Homo sapiens: one gene and its partner. The protein of the gene in region 1 interacts with the protein of each later gene in a pairwise test. Each region holds a gene or a part of one and is shown in the gene's direction. Other genes may lie near its edges.

Region 1 (12,565 bases):
GGTACAGAAAATAAATTTGATTATCAGAGCTAAACAAGTTTAGCGGGCATGGCATATACATAACAAACATTCAGAAGCTTAATTTATCGATGGGAATACCAGTTTTATAACTGACGTGGGGGTCAGAAAACTGTCATCTGTTTTGTCTATGACATCTATTTTTTTCTTTCGAATACTAAGTGCATGGGAAAAAAATCATAATTCGAAGGCTGCTTTGTGAGTGTGGAACCAGCAAGGGAAGTTTAGTTGGTTGATTTTAATGGCAGAGGAAATCAATGTATTAATGCTTTCAACTCTACTGTAGAGTAGTAGCTCCCTGCTGGACTGATAAATAGTGCTCCTGGTCAGAGCTTCTTTCCTTTAGACAGTATTCATGTTTACTGCCAGTTTTTCATTCTCTGGCCCTTCTTTTTCTTTATGAATCTTCTTTCTTTTGCCTATTCTTTGTATATTAATCCTCCCCATTAGATTTCAGACCCAAAGTCTGTCTGCTCTCTTCCAGAGACATTATTTCTCTTATAGTGACTTCTGCAACTGTACGATTTATTCTATTATGTGTTGATTTTATTAATAAAGCCTTGATTACTGGGAATTCTTTATAATATTACCTATAGTATTATTTATAAATCAGTCATAAAAATTATGTAAATATCTAAGAATTCAGTTATTTGATTGGCTTTATAACATTTTTAGATGTAGATGACGTGCTGATAAATAGCAAGCAGCCAATTTTTAAATGTTTTGATTATAAAAATAGATAACATGGGAAATCTGAAGTTATATGTAAAGGCAATTAAAATTCATGATCTACTTTTAACATTTTTGTGTGTAGATGTTCAGTTTTGTTTCTTATGTATCTTTTCCTGTCTCCCATAAAGTTAGGATCCATGTGACCTTCTAGTCTTTTCTTATTGTATCAGTATCATGACTATTTTCTTATGTCATTAATTTTTTTTTTTTTAAATAAAAGAGTTTCAGGCCAGGTGTGGTGGTTCACATCTATAATCCCAGCACTTTTTTTGAGAGGCCGAGGTGGGTGGAAGGCTTCAGCCCAGGAGTTTGAGACCCAGCCTGGGCAACAAGGTGAAACTCCGTCTCTACAAAAAATACAAAAATTAGCTGGGGGTGGAGGTGCATGCCTATAGTCCTAGCTATTTGGGAGGCTGAGGCGAGGAGGATCGCTTGAGCCAGGGAGGCTGAGATTGTGGTGAGTTGAGATCACGCCACTGCACTCCAGCCTGGGTGACAGAGCAAGATCCTGTCTCAAAAAAAGAAAAAAAAAAGATTTTCAATGGCTACGTAAAGATGCTTCACCTTAATTTGTACATTGGATACAATGGATTTGTTTCTGTCTTCAGTATTTAAAAATAACACTGTGAGAAATATCCTCGTAATCAAATTTTGGTTAAAACCGCAGGTTATTGTCATAGGATAAATTCCTCAATGGGCATTTACTTAGAAGAGGAGTGGTGTGGTAAATGTCTTCTTCTTCTTTTTCTTCTTCTCCCTTCTCCCGCCTTTTCCCGCTTTCTCCCACCTTCTTTCTTCTTCTTCTTCTTCCATTATTATTATTATTATTATTTTTATTTTTATTTGAGATGGAGTCTCACTCTGTAACCCAGACTGCAGTGCAGTGGCATGATCTTGGCTTACTGCAACCTCCACCTTCCAGGTTCAAGCGATTCTCCTGCCTCAGCCTCCTAGGTAGCTGGGACTACAGGCACGTGCCACCACACCTGGCTAATTTTTTGTATTTTTAGTAGAGATGGGGTTTTCCCATGTTGGCCAGACTGGTTTCTCAAACTCCTGACCTCAGATGATCCACCCGCCTCGGCCTCCCAAAGTACTGGGATTACAGGCGTGAGCGACCGTGCCTGGCCTATATTCTTGTTAGTAATGTATGAGCAGGCCATTTTACTTCACTGTCATTCATTATTGGAAGTGTATTATTTTTATATAGTTTTCAATTTAATAGAAAACATTATCTTAATTTTTATATTTAGACATTATTCATGTGATTGAATTACTTTTCACTTTTTTTCTTGCTATATAATGTGTTTTTGTATTTAAATTGCCTTCCATTAGTAGTTTTTGTCAGGGCATGAATGGGGAAAGGAGTAGTGTGGATAAATACTATGCTTTTTATTTTTAAGGGGGGATGAGAATGTTAAGTTGTTTTAAGGACATTTGTCAGTTATCCTAAATTTAAAGAAACCTTTTTATCTCTTTAAAGGATTCATTTATTCATTAATTTATTTATTCCTTAGCATGACTATATGAAGGAAGAGGAAGGTTTTCCTGAAGATGAGGCGACTGAATCGGAAAAAAACTTTAAGTTTGGTAAAAGAGTTGGATGCCTTTCCGAAGGTTCCTGAGAGCTATGTAGAGACTTCAGCCAGTGGAGGTACAGGTGAGTATCAGTTAACATTAAAAGTTCTGTAGTAAGTACAACTTCTGCGTGATCCAGTCAACAACATATAGAAATGTAGCCATGAGGAAGAATTTATCAATGAATTCTGCCGTAACTTCGTAACTTGTCTGTCTTCATGCCACTCTGTTGGCTGTAATTCTTATTAATATTCTCTATAGCCTCCAACACAGTGCCATCTGTGCCTTTGGCAGTGTTTATTAAAACATTAATACATTAAACCAATGTTTCTGCTTTGCTGCCCTTTCCTAAATATGTGACCTTGAGGAAGTTATTCAAATCTATCTGTCTTAGTTTCTTCCATGAAATAGGGATCATACTAGTATTTACCTCCTAGGGGTTACTATACTATTAATATTTTCATAAAATGCTTAGACCCAGTGCCTGGTACAGATAAAAGTATCAGTTAAGTAAAATAAATAATGAAATATATAAGAAAAATGTGTGACTATAACAATATTCAGTATAATTTCTTTCCCTATGAAAAGGTAGTAAAATAATGTATTTCACTTAAGGTTGACATTTTATTTGGTAAAATGGGTAATAAGTTGCTTACTATTTCTGATCCACTTGTGATTAAGTTTTGTTAATGAAAATAGTGCAAGTTCTTGCAAAATCTATTTTAAGTATTTTGCTTTAGTATATAATAGATTTTCTTTTTGTCAGATCTTTTACTCAGTTCTGTGAATGAGGTGATATATTTAGGAGATTGCCAAGTAGAGGAGAGTTTTGTTAGCTATTTAGAGATGTTATTTGAGTTTCTGGCACACAGATTATTGTGGTTTCTCAGGATCTAAGAAATTAGGCTACCTTTTTGTTTGTTTTAAATTGGGCTTATAGCCCAATTTATATACATTTATATACAAATTATATTTATAGACATGGATGCATTTTTAATAATGAAGCAACTGTTTTCAAATTTGTGCTATAAGGCATGCTTACTTTCATCATTTATCCTATCTGTGACACTGTTTTATATAAGAAATACAAATTTTGTCAACTCTACTTAGTGAGAGATGCCCTTAAAATTGGAGAAATAAAATGCTTTCTTAGTAATGCAAGTGTTTATGTTCATATTTGTATATATTAAACCTTAACTTTTGAGCTGTATTAGAAAAAATGCATAATAAACATTTTGAATAAAAACCTTCTATAGTATGCATTCAAATGGAAGTTACATTATTAGGCTTTTTCTTTTGAAAATTTAATCTCACTTAAATTAGTTTCCTATTCTTTGCTTTTTTTATTGTTTTAATTCTGTTTTTCTTTTGTTGTTGGATTTCCCAGTTTCTCTAATAGCATTTACAACTATGGCTTTATTAACCATAATGGAATTCTCAGTATATCAAGATACATGGATGAAGTATGAATACGAAGTAGACAAGGATTTTTCTAGGTAATCATTTTTTTTCTTCTTGGAATACCTTTAGATTCAAATTGTTTTAAAAAGAGCATACCTTTTAAAAAAGAAAAAGTCTAACCTTCTAGATTTGGTTTGTTTTAGTTCTGAAGAAATAGTCCTGAAAAATTCTCATTAATTGCATGCATTAAGTGAAACCTTTTAGAATCATTTAAATAGTGGTTGAATTCTAAAACTGAGGTTCTTTGATTTAGCATGCTTTGTTTCAAAAAGTTAGGGGAATATTTTTCCTTAGATATGTATATTGTGGAAATTGTTTAATATTTGAAACTGGTTGAAATACCTCACTGATCTGTGTGAGCTGGAAAATAAGTTGTCTAAGGATACATTGTATACCCTTATGACTTGATGTCTATAAATTATACCTAAGCTAAATCTTTATGTAAATAAGATTACTTTTAAACTTTTGAAAATATAGTACCTTAATTATACACTTTACATCTATTCGTTTGTATTATTTGGATTTCTTCAATGGAATGAAGATAATAGGTTTATAATATTAAGATTGCACCAAATAGGAAGACACATTTAGTTTTCAATTACAATCCAGGTTTGCCATTTACATAATTTTAGGGAATTTACTAAATCTGCACCTGTATATGCTTCAGTTTCCTTTTTTGTAAAGTACAGACAGCAATTATAGTATCTTCCTCAAGAGGTTTATGAGAATTAAATTAGTCAACATTTGTAAATTGCTGTGTAACCTTGGGCAGGTCACACCACTGACTTCTTTTGGACTTCAGTTTCTTCATCTCTAATGTACTATTCAGGATAGTATTGGTTTTCAAAGAATTTGTTGTTGTTTTCAGCACCAATGCAATACTTCATTTTTTTCCAAATGAAGTCTTATGTATTACATAGTTCGCCACATAAGCATGGTGAGGATATGCAGAAGTTTGTCTACTTGGCCTACTCCTGGTTCCTATCTCCTGAGCCTAAACTCCTGGGTTATTTGGAACACAGTTTGAACTCTAGATGACTTTAAGACTTCATGAAGGTCTAAAAATCTGTAATTCCTATTTTAAATCAGATGAAAATTATTACACAGAAAAAAGTTATCATAGAAAGCACAGGACTGAATTTGATCATAGCCAGTCTATTATTCGCAATGCTTCATTCTGGTATTCGAAAATTGCTTTGATCTAATCATTTGAAAATGAAAGGCCATGAAAAATTTTAAGCATCAGGTGATTTACTTTTGGTAGTTTGGTTGCATTTATCCTGAGTTACATAGACCTAGTTTCCAGTATGCCACTTTAATGGTGATGTGATCTTAAGCCAGGTATTTACACTACCGTGAACACCAGTGGTTTACTTGAAAATCTGTGAAGCCATCCATTTATAGCTCCATGATATAGAATAAAGGAGATAATATTTGTAGAACATCTAGCATCATGCTTAATATATGGTGTTTGATAAACAGAGAAGAAAGACAATTCCTAATTCTTGATTTTGAGAGTTTTACATTCTTAAAAGAACATTCTATCAAAAGTTTATGTAAATAGAGATTAAGAGGTTAAGACTTTTTCTGAGTTGCTTAGAGTTATTGATTATAGAGTTGCCATTATTAAAGGATACTGTGTTCAAAAACCTGTGAAGTCAGAAAGGCTTTTGGAATAAGGGCAAAATAGAACTTGTAATTTAAAGAGCCTTTGTTTTGGCCATGAGAAATGCAATTCAAGTTCTAATCGACATAATTTATTCTGCTTGAAATCCAAGTTTTTAATAGGTCAGTTGATTTATATTTCTCATGTTTTGCTAATTAATTGGTAGGTACTAATGTTTAATATTTTGTCTTTCAGCAAATTAAGAATTAATATAGATATTACTGTTGCCATGAAGTGTCAATGTAAGTACACCTTCAACTTGCTGAATCCACATGTAGGTTATGGTTCAAACAATTGCCAAGCAAAAATAAAAATCACTGGTTGTACTTTATTTTTCCTTTATAATATTTTAAAGTTTTACTGTGGTATTATTTAATAATACAAATTGTTTTACTCCTCAGCTTATATTCTTCAAGTTTCTTTTCCATAAAGAGAAGAGATAAAACTTTCACATTAGTATAATTAAAAGAAAGTTGGAGGAAATGTTTGTGAATCAGCATTCTAGTTTATGTACATCCTTTCTGTCTTTTTTTGTTTGGAGTACTAGCTTTTATACCCATGTTTCACAAGCATATCCTTGTGTCACTGTTTCAGTTTACCACCTTTTATGTTTACTCTTGCGTTTAAAAATACAGATCCAGTTATTTTAAGTTAATGGTGATAGGTTACCCTTTTCTTTTTTCGTCACTGGACTCACTTGGTTATACTAATAGAAGTGGAAAAATGCTAATATGCCAGATAGTGAATGTTTGAATCAATACTGTTTTCAAAAATAAGAATGCTTTTGCATGAAAAATATTTTATGAGTTACTGCTTAAAAATTACAGACCAAGAACTCAGAGAAAATTTTTACATTTTTAAAAGTATGAAATAATTTTACCCAATTAATTAGAGGTTATTTTCTGTGAGATTCTATCTCAGAACGACCTTGAATCTCTTTCTTTTCAATATGTTTTTCCTTATGTTGGTGGTTTTAAGAGATAAAAAAATACTTTATTTTTAAACTTGTAGTTAGTGGTAATTCTGAATATATGATATTCTGCCTTATTTTGGATGTTTAAATACTGTTAAATTTTAGCCTTTTCCGAATAAAATTTCCTATTTGTTGATTTGTAGCATAGCTTTACGATTTCTTTTAATCTCTAAAAATATTTCTTGGAATTAATATTTTGTTCAGCAGCCACTTAGTACTTGTGATTAGGTTCTTGCCGATATTTGCAAAGCTCTTCAATTCAGTGACGCTTATCCTTTTTAAATGAGATCTTGAATTATCTTTTTTTTTTTATTGGGTAAGAAGTTTTTTACTGGGTAAGAAAAAACATTATTACATTTTGGAATAATCTCCACCTAAGCTATATAAGGCTACTGTTTTAGCTTTTGGACAAATATATCGGAAATTATTCTACATAGTTGGTGAGGTTTTTTTTTTTTTTTTGCTTGGTGAGTTTTCTGTTAGTTGGCTTAATTTGTTTATATTGGGGATGGTTTGCCTCCAAGCATAGAATGTAAAACTTCTAATTCTTTTTTCTATGCAGATGTTGGAGCGGATGTATTGGATTTAGCAGAAACAATGGTTGCATCTGCAGATGGTTTAGTTTATGAACCAGTAAGTTTGATTCACATGGTTTTTTGAAATACACGGGTTGAGGAATCGTACGCTTGAAGACAGATAGTTGCTTTTAGTTTTGTCTGAAATAGTTTTTAGTATAATTCTTTTATTTCAAAAGTAATCCATATTCTTTGTAATAAATTTAGGGGGAAAAACAGAAAAGTTATATTATATACCAAAATCTTGAGGTGACCATTATTAACATTTTGGATGTATTTTGGATGTGTCTAAAGTCTGTTTTATAACCTTTTTTAATATTTTTGTTATTACTTTCCAGTAGTTTCCTTTTCACTTTTCTTCTAGTTATAGTGATGAGTTTTTTTCTTTTTCTCTAGTAATTTGGAAACTTTTATGTCCTGTTTGTATTCTACTATGACCAAATTTAAGTATTTAAAATATTTGAACTGTATTTCTCTTACAATCAAGAATAAAGTAGTATCTTTCTAAGAGGAGAAATGTCATGGGCATTACTACTTCCTTCCTCCTTTACGCCTCTATTTCCCTCAGCGTGTGAAATGCTGACATTTTCTTATTATCTTCAGAGCACAAGTTGAATATAACATCGTAGATTTATCAGAAAATATTGTCACATTTCAGTGGCAGATACAGTGATAACGAGTCATGATCAGAACTAGCCCTAAATAAGCTTTCGAGAATAAGCATGAGGCCCTCAGCAGCTAAAAGTTGCTCTGTTGGCATGGTGGTACTTAAATTTACGCATGCGTTCTTGAGTTCCTTTTCTTAATCATTGACAATTGTGAACCTTTCTTTTAGCAAATTTGCAAAGTGAAGAGTGAAGGTGAAGGAGGGGGAGTAGAAGTGACTGAATGTATGGGGTTAAAGGAAAGAAAATGAAGTCCTTGGCCAGTTTTGATTATTGAATTAATTTTAGTTTACAGCTACAAACTTGATATGTGCCTTTTGACATATACATTTTAAATAGAAATTTCTACAGAAACAGTAACTTTTGTTATTGCCACTCTGACTCTACTTTCTGACTCGTTTTCCCACTCAAAAAATCGATTTTGAAGTAATTTTTTATGAGCTTAGTTACCTTACAGATTCATATATGACAGCATATTACACTATTATCTGCTCATTTTGATCTAAGTGATTATTATTAGATATTTTAATATTTGTATTACATTTTATACTATCTTAAGAATACTTATTTAACTTTAACTTTGTTTTTTTTTTTTTAATTTTCTGCCATTCTTACCTTATTTTTGTTTATCATTTTGAAGAGGGACTGTTTTTTCAACTTTTAGTTTAGATTCATGGAGTACATGTGAAGGTTTGTTACCTGAGTATATTGTGTAATGCTGAGGTTTTCAGGTTATGATTGATCCCATCACCCAGGTACTGGGCATAATAACTAGTAGTTTTTCAATCCTTTTCCTTCTCCCTCCCTCCCCTCTCTAATAGTCCCCACTTTCTGTTGTTGCCATTTTTATGTCTATGAGTACCCAGCGTTTAGCTCCCACTTATAAATGAGAACATATGGTGTATGGTTTTCTGTCCTGCCATTTATTTGCTTAGGATTATTGCCTCCAGCTGCATTCATGTTGCTGCAAAGGATAAAAGTTTCTTCTTTTTTATGGCTGCATAGTATTCCCTGGTGCATGTATACCACATTTTGTTTATCCCATGTACCACTGATGAGTACCTAGGTTGATTCCATGTATTCGCTATTGTGAATGGTGCTGCAATAAAGATCAGAGTGCATGTGTCTTTTGCATACAATGATTTATTTTCCTTTGAGTATATACCCAGTAATGGGATTGCTGGGTTAAATAATACTCTACGTTCTTTGAGAACTCTCCAAATTGCTTTCCACAGTGGCTGAACTAATTTCCATTTTTACCAGCAGCATATAAGTGTTCCCTTTTCTCCACAGCCTCTCCAACATCTTTTTTTTTTTTTTCTTTTTGACTTTTTAGTAATAGCCATTCTGACTGGTGTGAGATGGCCTCTCATTGTGGTTTTGATTTGCATTTCTCTTATGATTACTGATATGGAGCATTTCTTCATGTTTGTTGACCACTTGTATATCTTTTGAGAAGTGTGTGTTCATGTCCTTTGCCGACTTTTTAATGGGGTTGTTTTTTACATGTTCAATTTATTTAAATTCCTTATAGATTCTGGATATTAGACCTTTATCAGATGCATAGTTTGTGAATATTTTCTCACATTCTGTAGGTTGTCTGTTTACTCTGTTGGTAGTTTTTGTTTTTGTTTTCTGTGCAGAAGCTCTTTAGTTTAATTAGCTCCCACTTTTCAATTTTTGTTTTTGTTGCAATTGCTTGTGGGGACATAGTCATAAATTCTTTCCCAAGGGTGATGCCCACAATGGTGTTTTCTAGGTTTTCTTCTAGGATTCTTATAGTTTAAGGTCATTTAAATCTTTACCCATCTTGAGTTAATTTTTGTATATGGTGAAAGATCTGGGCCCAGTTTCATTCTTCTGCATATGGCTAGCCAGCTCTCCCAGCACCATTTATTGAATAGAGAGTCCTTTCTCCATTGCTTATTTTTGTTGATTTTGTCAAAGATCAAATGGCTGCAGGTGTGCAGCTTGATTTCTGGATTCTCCATTCTGTTGAGGGGGGACTTTTTGAGATTTATTTTACAGCAAGAATGTGTAGGTATGTTTTATGGATTCTAGCATGACTGCCTGTATCTTCTGCTATTATCTTTTATTACCCATTTTCTCTGTTGCTCTGAACTGGGAAAATCCCTTTCACATGGGTTTTTCTATCCTATGAAATAAACTTATTTTGTGCTCTTTCTCAATTTGGTTTCATTTGTATGTTGTCTTGTATAAATTCATGAAAGTTTACAGCATATGAATATTAATTTAAAATGATTTAAGATGATAATAAAGGTTGCATCCTCATTTTTATGTTTCTTTTGGATGCTGAGAATTATTGTTTATGTATTATAATCTTGAATGTATCCTCTAAAAGTCACTTACACTGTTTCTCTAGCATTCTGTCCATATTCTAACTGTTGTGGTCACTCTCTTTTTTTTTTTTTTTCACATTTATGAGATGCCTGATGCTATCTTTTTTTTTCCCCCTACATCTCTTATCTTTCTAGCTGGATTTTAAGCTCTTGAGAATCATTAATTTCATTCTTTCATCTTTGTAGTTCTCAAAATGCATTGCAAAATGCTTTGCAGATTTTAGGCAATAGTGATATGTTAGAATTAAGCAGTTGGGACAGTATTGTTGACTGTTTTCATTGTAAACAGTTTCTGCCATCTCTTCTAGTAGTTTATGGAGCAGGAAAATTTTATTTAAATTGTTATAATTAAAAATTGTATCTTAATGAGAAAGTTAAGAACTTCAAAATATTTAATTGTATACTTTTCATTAGTAATATTTAAAGTGTTTAACCATGCTTTTAGGAAACTATTCATTCCTTTGTGCTAATTTATATAAAAGTGTTTAAGAATTATTTTTAATATAAAATTATTAAAAATATCATTTTAACTTAAAAATTTTTCACTCATTATTTTAATATGCACTCTGAATATTAAAAACCTAGCCCTGATAACTTTACTAGTTTACAAGCCATGATCATACAATATGCTATGATAGTTACTATTCTGCTATTTCTATTGCATTTAGTTACTATTTAAAGACAAGAAGAATTTTTAAAAGGTGGGAAAGTAAGAAATCTGACAGAGCTGAATTTGTGTATTGGTTGTTACTTACTATCTGTGATTTTGGAAAGTTTGTAACTTTTTGAGCTCCTGCTTCCTCATGTGCAAAAAGGGAAGAGGAGTAAAAAATTCACGAGGTGGTTAGGAAGGTTAAGTGAGATAATGAATTAGCATAGGGCCTACAAAGTAGTTTCTTTATACCTTTGTGCTAAGTAAACATTGTACAAAGAAGGTTTTGGAATTCAAAGGAAAAATCATATAGTCGCCACTGTCAATCATTTTATTTATACATTAGCTGGAGAGTAACTGCCAACAGCCTTATTGGTTTGCTGTGTTGTGTTTTATAGATGTTAGCATTTTCCTTATATGCTATAATGTGAAAAAGGTTTGGTAGCATGCTTTAGGCAAATTCATCAGGAGGTGTAATCAAAGGAAACATCAGAAAGATTGGGACAATTTAACTTGAAGCATATAGTTATATAAAACTTAGACATGAGGCTCTCACAGTTACCGGAGAGGCATGTTCCAGATTGATGTAATTAAATTAAAAAATCAAATCACAGAAGTAGAGCTGTGAACTAGGACTAGTAAAGTGGATTTTTTTTTTTTTTGAAACGGAGTTTCACTTTGTGTCCCAGACTGAGTGCATTGGCAAGATCTCTGCTCACTGCAACTTCCACCTCCCGGGTTCAAGCAATTCTCGTGCTTCAGCCTCTTGAGTAGCTGGGATTACAGGTGCCTACCACCAGCTGATTTTTTGTATTTTAGTACAGACAGGGTTTTTTTGTATTTTAGTAGAGGCAGGGTTTCACCATGTTGCCCAGGCTGGTCTTGAACTCCTGAGCTCAGGCAATCCGCCTGTCTTGGCCTCCCAAAGTGTTAGAATTACAGGCTTGAGCCACCATGCCCGGCCGAAAAGTGGATTATTGTTGCAAAATTAAATTGTGGATATAGCTACTATGAGAAGTTTGCATATTTTTCTCTGACTCTGCAAGTAGCCAAGTCTAACTTTGATCATGCCTAGATAAAATTTCTTAAGTAGTTCTTTGTTGATCAATGCATTTGGGAATTAACTGTGCTATTTTTAAACTCATTTCAAAAATTGTTGATTTTATTATTGTATTTTACCAGCAAGAATTTGGGCTTTGGATGCTTGAATATAACTCTGTATTTTTGTACCCTAATACTTGTGAATTTCATGCTAGCATCATTTAAATGATTTTAAGCCCTAGGATACCATTTTGTACATATGATAAATTGTCAACTTGCATATATTCCTGTAAATGTCGATAACTGTAACAGGAAAGTATTTGTGATTAGAAAATTTCTTTATGCTATTTTTCAGTAAAGATAGCACATTAAAATTTTAATTTGACTTATAGAAGTTGAATGTAAACCATGAATACTTGTTTTTAACAACACTTAAGTTTATGTTTCCTGCTCAAAGAAAAAATTTTAAATTATGATGTAAAAGCCAAGAGAATTTGACAATGCTAGTGATTATGTTTTCTTTCATTTCAGACAGTATTTGATCTTTCACCACAGCAGAAAGAGTGGCAGAGGTAATAAGAGAACAAAGTATTGTGGTCCATAGAAATCTAAGTCATATTTTGTCTATTGTAAACTATTTATAGATTAACACATTTCTCTAGGGATTTCTTTGGATGAATTCTTAGCAGAATTTGGTATATAATATAATCCTTACAATTTCAAAAACCATCAGATCTTAAGAAAGTCATGCATAATCTTTTCTCTGGTAAACTTTGATTCATAAGTTTTAGTTTTTATTTAAAATGGTATCAACTATTTACATTTTTTGATTACAAAAGTAATA
Region 2 (13,521 bases), on another chromosome or scaffold:
ACCACTTCAGGAGGTCACGCTATCATCACTGCCCTGACAGAGGGTTGCTCTGGCTTGGCTGACCAATGTGGAAGGGGTTGCAAGGACTCCCCTCTGCTGTTGAAAGGGGCTGGAAAAACATTCAGCCTAGTAATAGAGGGGCATCCATTCTATGAGCTCCCCCTGTTCAGGGTAGAATTCTCACACTCTGTTCCTTTCCAAGAATGAGGAAAGGAAGTGGAGATGGTGGATGTAAAATTTAAGAAATTTAGGAGGGAGAATAAGAAAAGAGGGAGAGAGAGAGAGAGAGAGAGGGAGGAAGAGAGACACAGAGAGAGAAAGAGAAAGAGAGAGAGAAAAATACTGGGACACATGGGCAGAAATATTTTTATACATGTGGATCTCTTAATGTATTTAGGAGAAGTAAAGTTGTGTAGACAGAGAGTCCTTGTCAGTATCCAAGCGAGTAAATCGAGACAGAGTTCAGGGATCTTTCAATCTGTGTTTTACTAACAGAATTCACTGATTCACTGTGTATGGAACACAAAGGCATGCAGGAGCGTGCCTTACTCGTCACGCACACGCAAGCCTCAAGGGCAAGGAGGGGTCTGTATCTCTAATTATTGGTCCGGAATAAACATTTAGCAAATAATTGATGAATCAGGGAGTGGACTAAAAGCCAATCATCAGGTAAATCTATTAATGTTTAATTTCAGTGGATTGCCTCACCCTACCCTTATTGCTTCATTTTTTGATTTATAGTCATAAGCGGCAGATAAAGGCAAAGTTGGCTAGGGAGCAGTCTCCACAAATAGAAACCCATAGGAAGAGTAAAGAACATGCAAGTCAGGGTAATTTCTGACCCATCAGTCGGGAGGAGGTTCCTGAAGTCAAGTGTTATTGAATGAGAAATCTGGACCAGACACTGTACTTGACATTTGACCAGCATTTATCTCACATGACCTTCCTAAGAACACAATGAGGGAGACACTATTAATACTATCCCCAGTTTACAGACTGCAGAGCCCAAGGAGATGCTTAGCAGCTGGGCTTGAGAGCTGTAATGGAGCAAGGAGGGAACCCACATCGGCCTTCAACAGCCTTCCTCTGGTCCAGCAGCTGTGAGCAGGCCTACTTGTTGGAAGTGGACTGACTGGTTGACTCGCTGGCAGTGCATGTGCACAAACACATACACACGTGCACACACAGACACCTACACACAGATACAGAGAGATACACATACACATCTACATATATACACACATGCAAACACACATATATACCCACACAGATACAGAGATACATGTATATATCTACATATATACACACAAGCACACACATACCTACACACAGATACAGAGAGATACACATACACATCTAGGTATATACACACATGCACATACATACGTATACCTACCCTCAGATACAAAGAGATGCATGTACACAGCTAAATATACACACACATGCACACACATACCTACACACAGATACAGAGAGATACACATTTATGTATATACACACATGCATACACACATATATACCTACACATAGATACAGAGGTATATATATATATATATACACACATTCACGTCTACATATATACACATGTACATACACACATATACCTACACACAGATACAGAGATGTACACATCTATATATATATATACACACATGCACATACACACATATACTTACACACAGATACAGAGATGTACCCATCTATATATATACACACATGCACATACACACATATACCTACACACAGATACAGAGATGTACCCATCTACATATATACACACATACACATATACACATATACCTACCCACAGATACAGAGATGTACACATCTATATATACATAGACACATGGACATACACACATGTACCTAAGCACAGAGAGATACATGTACACATCTACATGTATATTCACATACACACATATACCTACACACAGAGATATACACATCTACTTATGTACACATATGCACACACATACATATACTGACACAGATACAGAGATAGACACTTCTACTTATGCATACACACTTGCACATACATACACATATATTCACTCAAAGACACACACGAATATACAGATATACCTGCACACATGCACATCCACGCACCTATGCATGTGTGCACTTGTACAACACCCTTACACATATCTACACATGCATGTGCACACACACATATACACACACATGAATGGAGACACCCCCACACGCTTCCCACATCCGCCCCATACCCCATACGTACACTCACAGACACAGACACACAACTCTACACACATGTGTACATAAACATACATGTACGCATGTACACACATACACGAATACCCACATACCTACATATGGATATACGTACCCTCACTTACACACACACAGACACAGGCACACCTACACACACGTACACCTGTGCACAAGCACACACATACAGGTTTATACACATATACATGCCCCCAGAAAGACAGATACACACACACACACACACACACACACACACACACACACACCACTCTGCAAATAGCCTGGTTACATACCAAGTTGTGATGTGAATTTCCATCTGACCTCACACTGAGGCATTTGTCACAATTCATAAACCAATACTGATACATTAGTATTTTTATTTTTATTATTTTATTTTATTTTATTATTTTTTGAGATGGGGTGTCGCTCTGTCACCCAGGCTGGAGTGCAGTGGTGCGATCTCGGCTCACTGCAAGCTCCGCCTCCCAGGTTCATGCCATTCTCCTGCCTCAGCTTCCCGAGTAGCTGGGACTATAGGCGCCCGCCACCACGCCTGGCTAATTTTTTGTAATTTTAGTGGAGATGTGGTTTCACCATGTTAGCTAGGATGATCTCGATCTCCTGATCTCGTGATATGCCCACCTCGGCCTCCCAAAGTGCTGGGATTACAGGCATGAGCCACTGTGCCCGGCCAATACATTATTATTAACTGAAGTCTATACTGTATTCAGATTTCCTTGGTTTTTACCTCATGTCTCTTTTCTGTCTCAGGTTTCCACATTACATTTAGTCGTCACGTCTCCTTGGGCTTCTTTTTGCTGTGACTGTTTCTCAGAATTTCCTTGTTTTTTGATGGCCTTGACCCAATACTTGCTGGGTATTTCATAGAATGTTCTGCAATGATAAAGTTGCCTTTTTTTTTTTAAATCACATCATACTATCAACATGATTTGCCATTGTTGGTGCTGACCCTCACTACCTGGGTAGTGTTCGTCTGGTTTCTACGTGGTAACGTTGCTCTGTTTCTCTGTTTTCATGCTGCACTCTGGAAGAAAGTTACCATGTGTAGTTCACACTTAATGGGGAGTTACACTCCAAGTCCTTGAGGTAAGGAGTATTTATGTCCATTATTTATAATTCTTCAGCATGTGAGATTTGTCTCTTCTCATCCACCTAGCTGATAATGTATTTATATCACTATGGAGGAATGGGTATTTATTTATATTTTGGATAATTTCTCCTCATGTGTATGATATTTTACTATAAAAAGTTAAAAGTGACGCAGAAACTATAAAAACGAATTTTATTTGATAACAAACACCGTGGTAGTCAAGAATAGGGCACTTTTGTTAAAAGAGCAAATAAGTCTTTGGACACATAAGCAAAAATAAAGCTTCAAGGATAGGGGAGGTGATAATCTTACTCTATTCTATGTTCTTTGCACTGTACTGAAAATATTGTGCCCAGTTCTGGGCCTAATCTTTCAGGGGAGATGTAAGTAATTGGATGCCATTCTGAGAAGTGGCTGCAGATCCCTGAAACCCTATACAAAAAAAAAAAAAAATGAGATCTGACTTACTTGGAATTTATGATAATTGAGGAGTTTAGACATCTTTACCACGTATTATTTCAAAGATAGAAAAAAGGCATGGTCCAGCCCCAAGTTCTGGCTATCTTCTCCTAGTCTCCCCACTCCTGCCCACTGTATAAAATAGATAAATATGTAATACATGATATTTGCGCAATCACAAACACTCCAAACATTAGTTATCACCCTAATGCTCAAAAAGCAACAAACGAACAAAAAACTCGTATTACCAACAAGATCTCTGTGATGTCCCTGAGATGATCTGTTATGGCTGGTACCACCCTGTCCATGTCCTGAACTTTGGGTCACTATGACATCAACACACAGTCATTCTCTGCTTGGCAAATCATGCCGTCATTATGTTACCCTCATCATAGGAAAATGTTCTTCAATTATTGTAACAATGTGATTTTAAAAATGTTTGAGCTCTGAAATATCTTTCAAATATCTGAAAGAAATAGAACAAGACATCCTCTGACTCCACGTGGAGTGGGAAGACAAACGTCAAGATGAATTTGACCTAGAGGAGAATGTTCTAATATCCCGAGCCATCTTGAATGGGAAAATCAGCCTTCAGAGGAAGTGAAGTGCCTGTTCTCAGAGATGTTCTGGCAATAGACAAGATGACCACTTGGTGGGGATGTTACAGAGGGAATTCCCATTTTAGATGGGAAGTTCCTTCTTCAAGTTCTCTTCTAAACTCAACATCCACCAATTCTAAGAAAGTGTACATTGGAGGATTCTCAGCATTTTTTTTTCCCCAGCATTTTTTGCCCAGCAATTTTTTTTGGGGGGGCGGCAATCCTTTCTTTTGGGTAGGATGTTTTGTTTTCAGATGGCATTTTCCAAAAGGCCCCTCTGCTGGCAGGAGGAAATGACACATTGACCCACTGGCGTCATTAGCAAGAATGAGTTGGTCCAATTGGCTCCTTTTCCCTGGAAGGCTGAGAGCAAGCCTGCAAGCAAGGGGACACTGGCCAAGCCATGATGGCCTCGAGAATAGCTTCACGACAAAATGGTGGGGACAAACAAGGGACACGATTTAGCTCAATAGGATGCAGGAAATCTTCATTCAGCGGTAGCTCTGAGATGGACTGACCCTGAGGTTGGGATGAGGACATTCAGGGCTTAGAAAGGATTGGGCTAGTTCTCACCTGGGGATTCTGCAATTCCATATATTCCCCAACTGGTAAATAGCCTTCCTTTCCACCACCGTGCACCCCCACTAGTCTCTGCTCCTGCAGCAGGCCTCCTGGAAGCACTGCGTCCTCAACTCTGCAAGGCCAGGAACCGGGTCTATATTGTTCACTACTGAATTCCTCCATGGCTGGTGCAGAACTGGCCACCTAGAAGACTCTCAATAGAGATGTGATTCTTCCTATATTTTTCCAACAAATATTAATTATGTACATGTGATGTGCCAGGCACTGGACTGTGCACGTGGTGAACAGTAAAGGAAAAACAATAAACAGATAAGGTTCCTGCCCTCATGAAGTTTATGGTCTAGTAGGGGAGACAGAAAACGTTCTTAAACTGATCAAAGTAAATATATAATTGTGGATTGAGCTAAGCGCAACAAAGGCAATGAATAAAGCGTGCTGATAGGAGATACTCAGATTGGGTGACAGGAGGTGATGTTTAAGCAGATATCTGAAGGATGACAAAGGAAACAGCCGAGTGCTGAACTGAAAGAAGAAATAAATGAGTGAGGAGGTAGCTGTCAAGAACCTCTCTCTCTGCTCAGAGGAAAAAGGCTAAGAGGCAGTGGGTACTCTCAACAATGAGAAAAGTGCCTACCATCCATGAGTGCCTGTAAGTGCCAGGGACGATGCAAGAATGGTGTCATTCACTTTTCAAAACAGCCCTTGGAAGAAAGACTCCTCCTACCGCCAATTTACAGAAGAGGAAACTGAGGCTTAGGAAGGGCAGGTAACTTGCCCAGTGCCTCACAGCTAAGCCAGGATTCGAACTCAATTTAGAAGTCTGTGAGACCCGAAAGCTCATGTTCTTAATACTGTTCAGCCCCTTCACCATCAGGGCTCAGGGAGTATCCTTCATGGGACTTCTGTGTGGCCTGAGGGTGGCTTTTGCTCATAGATTTTACCCTCCCCTTGGGAGCCCCAGGACAGAGTAGGTCTGGGAACTCGCAAGGGCTGCCTCCAGGAGAAAAGCCACCTCTCTCAAGTGGGCGTGCACTTGGCAGGAAGCCTGCGCAGGTGTTTGGCTCAGCCCAAATGTGGGAGCCACTGACCAAATGCCAAGACTCTCAGCGAAGAGCCATAGCTAGTCCTGTCTCCCCACCTGGAAGCTGTTTTTCGAACGGAGCTAACTGCCAGGATGCTCTGGGCTGGTGAGGCCACAAGGATTGTGAGAGGTGCCCTGTGGCTCAGATGGCACCCAGGAAGGAATTGGGGTCTGTTGAGGGAGGGAGAGTTCAGGGCTAGCCAAAGGCAATTCCAGATCCCTGCCCCTAAGCTTCCTGGCCTGGAGCTGGTAACGTCTCCCTGACTCAAATGTCCATGTGGCTGGGAGGGCAGACAACAGTTGCCATCACTCCACGCAGACCCTCATAACTGCCTTGTTGTCCAACCCCACAGTCCCACAGCACAGTAATGGTTCACAAGACACTGCTTCCCACCCCTTCTCCCTTGGGTCTTGAGTTGGCTTTGAGCCCAGGTGGGCTCTGCCTCACCTCCCTTTACAGGGGATACGCTGCTGGGTCCCTTCCTTCCCGAGTCCTGCCTCCCCAACATCATCCACAAAAGGCATCCTCTCCCTTCCTCCTCCTGCCCCTCATTTAACTCCAGCACGTGTTTTGAGACAAGTCTATACTCCACTGGACACTTTGTTTTACACGACTTCCTCTTATTCTTCATTCTCCTCCTGTTTAAAAAACATGAATCACTAGCATTTATGAGGTTCCTTCTACTGTTCCAGGCAGGATATGATATTATTTTATAGCCAAAGGGATGAAGATCTAGGGAGGTGAAGTGACCCTCCCAAGACTATGTAATTAATAAGTAGTGGAGTTAAGATTAGATTTGAATAGAGGGAAACTGACCTCAAATAGAGAATGTTTCTCTCTAGCTATGCCAAAGTCCAGCCTTTATCACAACCTTGCCTCCCTCCAGCCAGGCATGTGGCCCACATGGGGCACGCCCTGAGCCCAGGTGCGGTGACCCCTCTCTGGCTTAGCACGGTTAGGTGGTGCTGTAGTTGCAGAGTGCTGGCTTTTAAGCCGCTTGTGAGTAAGGGATTTATTTTTTCCCAGCCTCAGTTTTTCTCTCTGTAAACTGACCATAATAATAACACCCACCTCAAACAGTTTTATAAGGTTGAAATGGGGTGAAAGTAGGAAAGATCTAGCACATAATGCACTAATTTTTTTTTTTTTTTTTGCCTAAAGCAGGCAGTGGAATAGAATGCTTAGGGGCATACAGCTCTGAGATCAGGCTGCAAGACTCCACTGCTGTGTGATCTTGACTAAGTCTCTTACCCTCTCTGTGTCCTGGTTTCCTCACCTGTAAAATTACTATAATACTAGAATCAACTTCATAAGGATATTGTATTCAAGGAGGATGAGAGGAGTCCCAGTGAATGGAGGCTGGCATAGAATAGGCTTACAATAAAGAGAAAGAACAAATAAGCAGCTATACACAGCCTCTGCCACAAAAAACTACCAATAGATATTAGCCGCTATTAGTTAATTGTCATTATTATCTCTCCCTGGCATGTTTCCACTCAGGCAAGACCAAAGCACTTTCCTCTACCAAGGAATATCTTCCTCTACTTTCATATCCCTCTCCATCCAACCCTTCAGCCTGCCTCAGTTGGGATTTGTAGGAGTCCTGAAGCTATGGACCAGATCAGAGGTGCCTTCCCTTCCAGAATCTATTTTCCAAACTTCATCGATTGCCTATATTTATATGCATGCATGCACACACACGCACACACACACACACACTCTCACTCACTCCCGAGTCAGAAAAAGGACTCAGCACCCAGACATACTGCAGGCTCTTGAAGAAGACAGTATTTTCCTGTGAGCTAGAGGATCTTCCTGTTATTCTCCATGCAGTTCAAATTCTGTCAATTATTATCCAGTTAGTCATCGCTCCAGAGGTGGACTGTCATTAAAAAAAAATAGAAGGTGTGTGTTTGTGGGTGAGTATGTGCATGTGTTGTGTATGCAGGGGGTGGGGAGGGGCGAGAGCGGTCAAATAGGAAGTGCCTTGGTATTTATGTTGAAGTGCACACTGGTTTAAATTACCCACTGGGAATATGATTATGCTTAATCTATGCTCAGTTGAAAGGGGCTGGGGCTGCTTTCTCCCCTCCCTTCTTGACTCTCTGTTCACAGAACTCAGGCTGCCTCCAGCCAGCCTTTGCCCGCTAGACTCACTGGCCCTGAGCACTTGAAGGTGCAGCAAGTCACTGAGAATGAGCACTTTCTTCTCGGACACAGCATGGATCTGCCTGGCTGTCCCCACAGTACTATGTGGGACAGTATTTTGCAAATACAAGAAGAGCTCAGGGCAGCTGTGGAGCTGGATGGTCTGCCTGGCAGGCCTCTGTGCAGTCTGCCTGCTCATCCTGTCCCCTTTTTGGGGCTTGATCCTCTTCTCGGTGTCATGCTTCCTCATGTATACTTACTTATCTGGCCAAGAATTGTTACCTGTGGATCAGAAGGCAGTCCTGGTGACAGGTAAGCAGACGGTGCTACAATTTTCACTGAGGGTATGATCTGAAACTTGCTTTGCCTTAGCAGGACTTTGTCAAATCTGGCTTAAAAATAAAATACTTGGCATGGAGTAAATGAAAGCCCTCACCCAAGTATTTTTCATGACACTGTTTTCGTTCCGTTTTTTCCAGGAGGTGCATTTGAAGGGGCTGGTAGTGGGAGGGAAGGAGAGGATGAAGTGCACCCAGACAATGATTTTGTTAAAATTTCCCAGGAATAAATATTAATAGGCAAAATGGCAATATTTCATGTGTTCTATTGTACCCAGGAATGTCCCATAGATTGTTTTTTAGGCTTAAATGGACTTTTGTTCTGACATCATTGTTTGGCCAGGTTCTCCACCTGGACTCTTCTTCCCTAGGTATGCAAGAACGCTTACAAGCCAAGTTCTACTTGTCCCTTGCTGTTTTGAAATATTGAAGGGATTCACTTACCTGGGCTGGAGACTTTGCAGTTTGCTTGGCTGCTGTCAAGAACCTTGTGTCCTGTCTGAACTGTTCCTCATTAGACCTCTAATGTTTCTTAATTGGACCAACTTGGCATCGTGTCCAACATTCAGTTGCCTGTTAGCTGAGCTGCCAGTTTTTCCCTTGTTTGTGTGTGTGTGTGTGTGTGTGTGTGTGTGTGTGTGTGTGTGTTTCCCCATTGCAAGTGTGAGGCCAAATTAAATTTCTTTGAGTTGTAAAATTTTTGCTTGGTTATGGAGTTTAAGCTTGGATAGGGCTGTAATTAGGATTATCCAGCGTTATCCTAACCCAGAAAGCCCTACCAAATAAAAAAAAAATCAGCTGTGGAATCATTTGGGGGAGATCATCACCCCTCTGACCATGATCCTCAGGGTGAAGGCAAGAATGGCATGGGGATGTGGTTGGGAGAAAATCTGGGGCTTGACAATTTGCAGAGAAACAGACTTTGTTTTTGGGTTAAAGTAAAATGCTTTCTTGAAACAAAATGCAAATTGGTGCTTGTTGGGGTTAGACAAGCCACAGAAAAGAAGCTTCTTTAAATTAATTTTTGAAAGTTTAGAGGGAGAAAATTCAGTCAATGGGATGTTTATCTGCAAGAATGTCTGATATCACCTGGAATCATGTATCTGGGAGTCTGGCTGGATTTTCCACTTTTTTATTAGAATTCTCAAATGGCTTATCGGTGAAATTTGTAAGAGAGTCTCAATTTTCCTGTTCTGTGTCCTGTTCTGTTATGAAACCTTAGGATGAGCTCAGGCAAACCACAGGGTAGCTGAGAAAATGGGAATCCCTTCTTGCTTGTTTATTTTGTCAACATTCTTTATCCTCTGCATTTCAAGATGCAGGTGTTAATTAATGCTCACAAAATATGCACCCAACTCAGTGAGCCCACATCAGCCACTGAAAGGTGCCGTGCATTTAGTGTTGAGTGAGGATGATTGAATCAATTAGGCAACTCAAGCTCAAGGACTAATCCCTGCATGAAATGCTTATGGCAATGAAGAAAGCTTAGAATTAAGATGAGCACTACATATATTTAAGGATGACTGAAATGTCACTTTCACGTTCTTTGTTATTTTCAAGTTCTCTGTCATTTTTATGAGGAATGCTATGTGCTCATATCATCCTAGACAAGGCCTCAAGACCTTTGTATGAAATCGAGAAATTTAAAATGAATTCATTTTGTTAGACCACAACTCTTTAAAGAATGAAGAAGCCACGCTGAGTTTGGAATAACCTTTGTTCCAGATTGGCTTATGATAACATAGATTAGCACGCATTGTGGTGGGGCAGGACCAAAGAAAAATGTGGCAGTGTACATCAAAACCATACATATGGTTCCTTTATCTGATAATTCAAGTCTTGGAAATTTATTTTGAAGACATAATCTGAAATATGAAAAAAAGAGTAGAAGCAAAACCAAAATGGCACATTCAACACAATCTTATTATTTAATTTAGATTAATATTAAATATCAAAAGCAACAAAAAGGGTGATAATATATGGTACATCCTCTGGGTATAACAATGTGCAACCATTAAAAATGACAGCCACAAGGACTGTGTTACATGGAAAACTGCTTGGGCCAAAGGAAAACACACAGGAAATCCCAGGGTTGGAACAAGTCTACAGCCACGTCAAATGCATAGATTCCTGGGCTGGGCAAAAAGCTGTGATAACAGCTGGAAGAAATAGTTTGTATATGGTTGGATTAGTGTGCTGGAAATAGTTTGTAAATGAAAGGAAATAGTTTATAAAGGAAATAGTTGGTTAATGGTTGGATTAGACTATTTACGTGTTATTTTCTCTCCTGGATTTCAAATTTCTCTGGTGTGATTACATTACTCATACAATAAAAATACTTAAAAGAGAACACAAAACAGCTAAAGCTCCTTTTAGTTTGTATTTAATTTTGGACCCAGGTGAGAGGCAATTACAAAGACAAATTTAAAAAAATGACTTTTTTCTCCCCTTTGAGCCCTTTATTTCATTTTGCTAAGATGTTCAAAAGTCTGTTGCCTCAGAGACAATATAATTACAGTAAGAAAAAGTAAGCAAGCATAGAGTGTTTGAATACATATTTGTCTTCAAGATACCTGAAACCACAGAGGCCATTCAAATATTTAAAATGTATGTGTGATGCATTTTATTTTATTTTATTTCATTTTATTTTTTGAGATGGGGTCTCAATCTGTTGCCCAGGCTGGAGTGCAGTGGCATGATCTCAGCTCACTGCAACCTCTGCCTCCCGGGTTCAAGTGATTCTCCTGCCTCAGCCTCTCAAGTAGCTGGGATTACAGGCACGTGCTACCACGTTGGGCTAATTTTTGTATTTTTAGTAGAGACAGGGTTGTATGATGCATTTTAAATGTATAACTGTAAAATGAACAAAGAGCAGACCAACACGATTGTAATAACATCTCAACCACAACATAGTGGGAAAAAACTTTGAAGACACACAGGCTTGGGTTTGAATCCTGCATCTACCTTGCCTTAGGCTAGGTCCCCAGAGGCAGTGCTTTCTGTGAGGATTTGTGGGAAAGATTTATTAGGAGGGTTTCCAGAGAAGATGGGCAGGGAAAAGGAAGAAGCCAGGTAAGGGTGAGACATTGAGAAGTCCTCTGAAGATCACTTGGGCTTGATCACCCTGGGCGGACGTGGGGTGGTGTGGATCACTCATCAGAGCTGTGCCAATTGGAGACTAGAGAGCTGTAGTCTTTATGCCTTCACACCAGTCAATCATTAGTTAAGGGCAGTCACCCCTGTTCCCCCTTGGTTGTGGGCAGGAGGGGAGACTTAATTCCATGCACTTCTGGCACCATGTGGACACTGGCTGGCAAAGTGGGTTCTGGTCCTTTGGGGAAAGAATCGCAGGTGCTGGCTGCTGGGAGTCAAAGTGCACCATGGATTGATGCACACAACAGTGGGAGGGTTCTGGGGGAATAGCATCTTATTTGCTGCATCTTTATTACTAGCTGTGTGGACAGCTGTGTAAACTTTGGTGCTCGGTTTTGGATTTTGGGACTCTGTTTTCTCCTCTGTAAATGGAAAATAATACACACACACACACACACACACACGCACAAACACACACACACCCCTGCATATGTTATACTACTATAGATGGAGTTAGCAGATGAGAGAGAGAGAGAGAGAGAGGGAGAGAGAGAGAGAGAGAGAATGACTGTATTGGGGTGGTGAGGGGAAAGCTTGAGTAGTTAGGAAGAACATGAAGGAACAAAAAGAACAAAAGAAAACGTTGACAAACAGAGAGAAGAAGCATTCATGTATTCACTCAATAAATATTCATTGAGGGCCCAGTATGTGCCATGCATTTTCCAGAAGCAAAGGGGGAAGAAAATTTTAAGACCAGGAAATTACTGTCAAGCGATGGGATCAAAATTCCTACTTTTCCTTCATCTTGGACACACATTCACTGGAGTTCCTTCCCCCTCTTCTGAGGTTACACGTTGTCCTTCTCAGCCTACCCTCTAAGCTTGGCAGGAGATGCACAGGTAACTTTAAGTTTCTATCCTCTGGCCTTTCATCCTGCCCCCTCCAGTCATCTCAAATATTGAGAACCGACTCAGCATCTACTGTGTACAGAGCAGACACCTCAGGGCTTCATGGACCACTGGGGAAGACACGGCCACACCCAACTGTGGCTGTGTGATGGGGCACATAAGAAACCTCCAGGTTCATTCCCAAAGCGGATCCCAGGCAGACACAGGTCTTGTGTGTGGAGCTGGGGAAAGCTTGACAAAAAAAGAGGGACCTCGTTAAGAATCTAAAATTAGTTTTCTAGGGGGAAAGTGAGAAGGTATTCCAGCCTAATTGGTTAAGTAGCTACAACAAATACAGCTAGCACTCAATAAGGCTTGCTGCATTAGATAATTTTTAATTGAAAATTTCAAAACTGGATATATTGGAGAACGGATCCAGGAGGAGAAGTAAGATCTGTTTTCAGTGAAAATATTTTATGCTCACAAGAAAGTGTCTCACGTGAGTGATCATCCCTTCTTGCAATTACTGAACAGTCCAAATAAGGTTCTCAAGTTGAATACCATGGGTATCATCTTGGGGTTTGGACTCCTTTGGATTTCACGTTAGATTATTAAGATGGATAAACATTGACAGTGGACTAAGAGACTAAGAGAAATAACATCTCTGTGCTCTAACCTTTACATGCATTTTATATTTGATTCTCACAACCCTAATAATTCACATTTGTAAACAAGGAAATGCGTCCAAAGTCACTGAGCTACTAAGTAGCCAAGATTGGACTAAACCCAGATCAGATCCATCTCTCACCAAAAGCCATCCTCTTAACCACTGTCATTAGAAGTGTTAGATCCATAGTTGGTATTAGACCACAAAGGTTACCCAGGATATAAAACGTGTCCATTCAATCAACAAGTAAATATTGAACATCTGTTATGTGCCCATGACTCTGCTTAATACAGAGCTTGGCAATTGATTGGGTGTAGAAGATGCTTATG

What was found.
Region 2: the proteins of ERGIC2 (region 1) and HSD17B2 interact in binary tests that used the Homo sapiens proteins (3 or more experiments, as listed by UniProt).

Annotation. Positions count from the first base shown.
Region 1 is NC_000012.12:29,361,373-29,373,937, reverse strand, and holds part of ERGIC2 (endoplasmic reticulum-Golgi intermediate compartment protein 2), read left to right. Parts: intron 1-2,267; 5' UTR 2,268-2,304; coding exon 2,305-2,410; intron 2,411-3,715; coding exon 3,716-3,824; intron 3,825-5,650; coding exon 5,651-5,697; intron 5,698-6,990; coding exon 6,991-7,061; intron 7,062-12,252; coding exon 12,253-12,293; intron 12,294-12,565. UniProt on the Homo sapiens protein: Possible role in transport between endoplasmic reticulum and Golgi.
Region 2 is NC_000016.10:82,027,171-82,040,691, forward strand, and holds the start of HSD17B2 (17-beta-hydroxysteroid dehydrogenase type 2), read left to right. Parts: upstream 1-8,082; 5' UTR 8,083-8,254; coding exon 8,255-8,519; intron 8,520-13,521. UniProt on the Homo sapiens protein: Catalyzes the NAD-dependent oxidation of the highly active 17beta-hydroxysteroids, such as estradiol (E2), testosterone (T), and dihydrotestosterone (DHT), to their less active forms and thus regulates the biological potency of these steroids.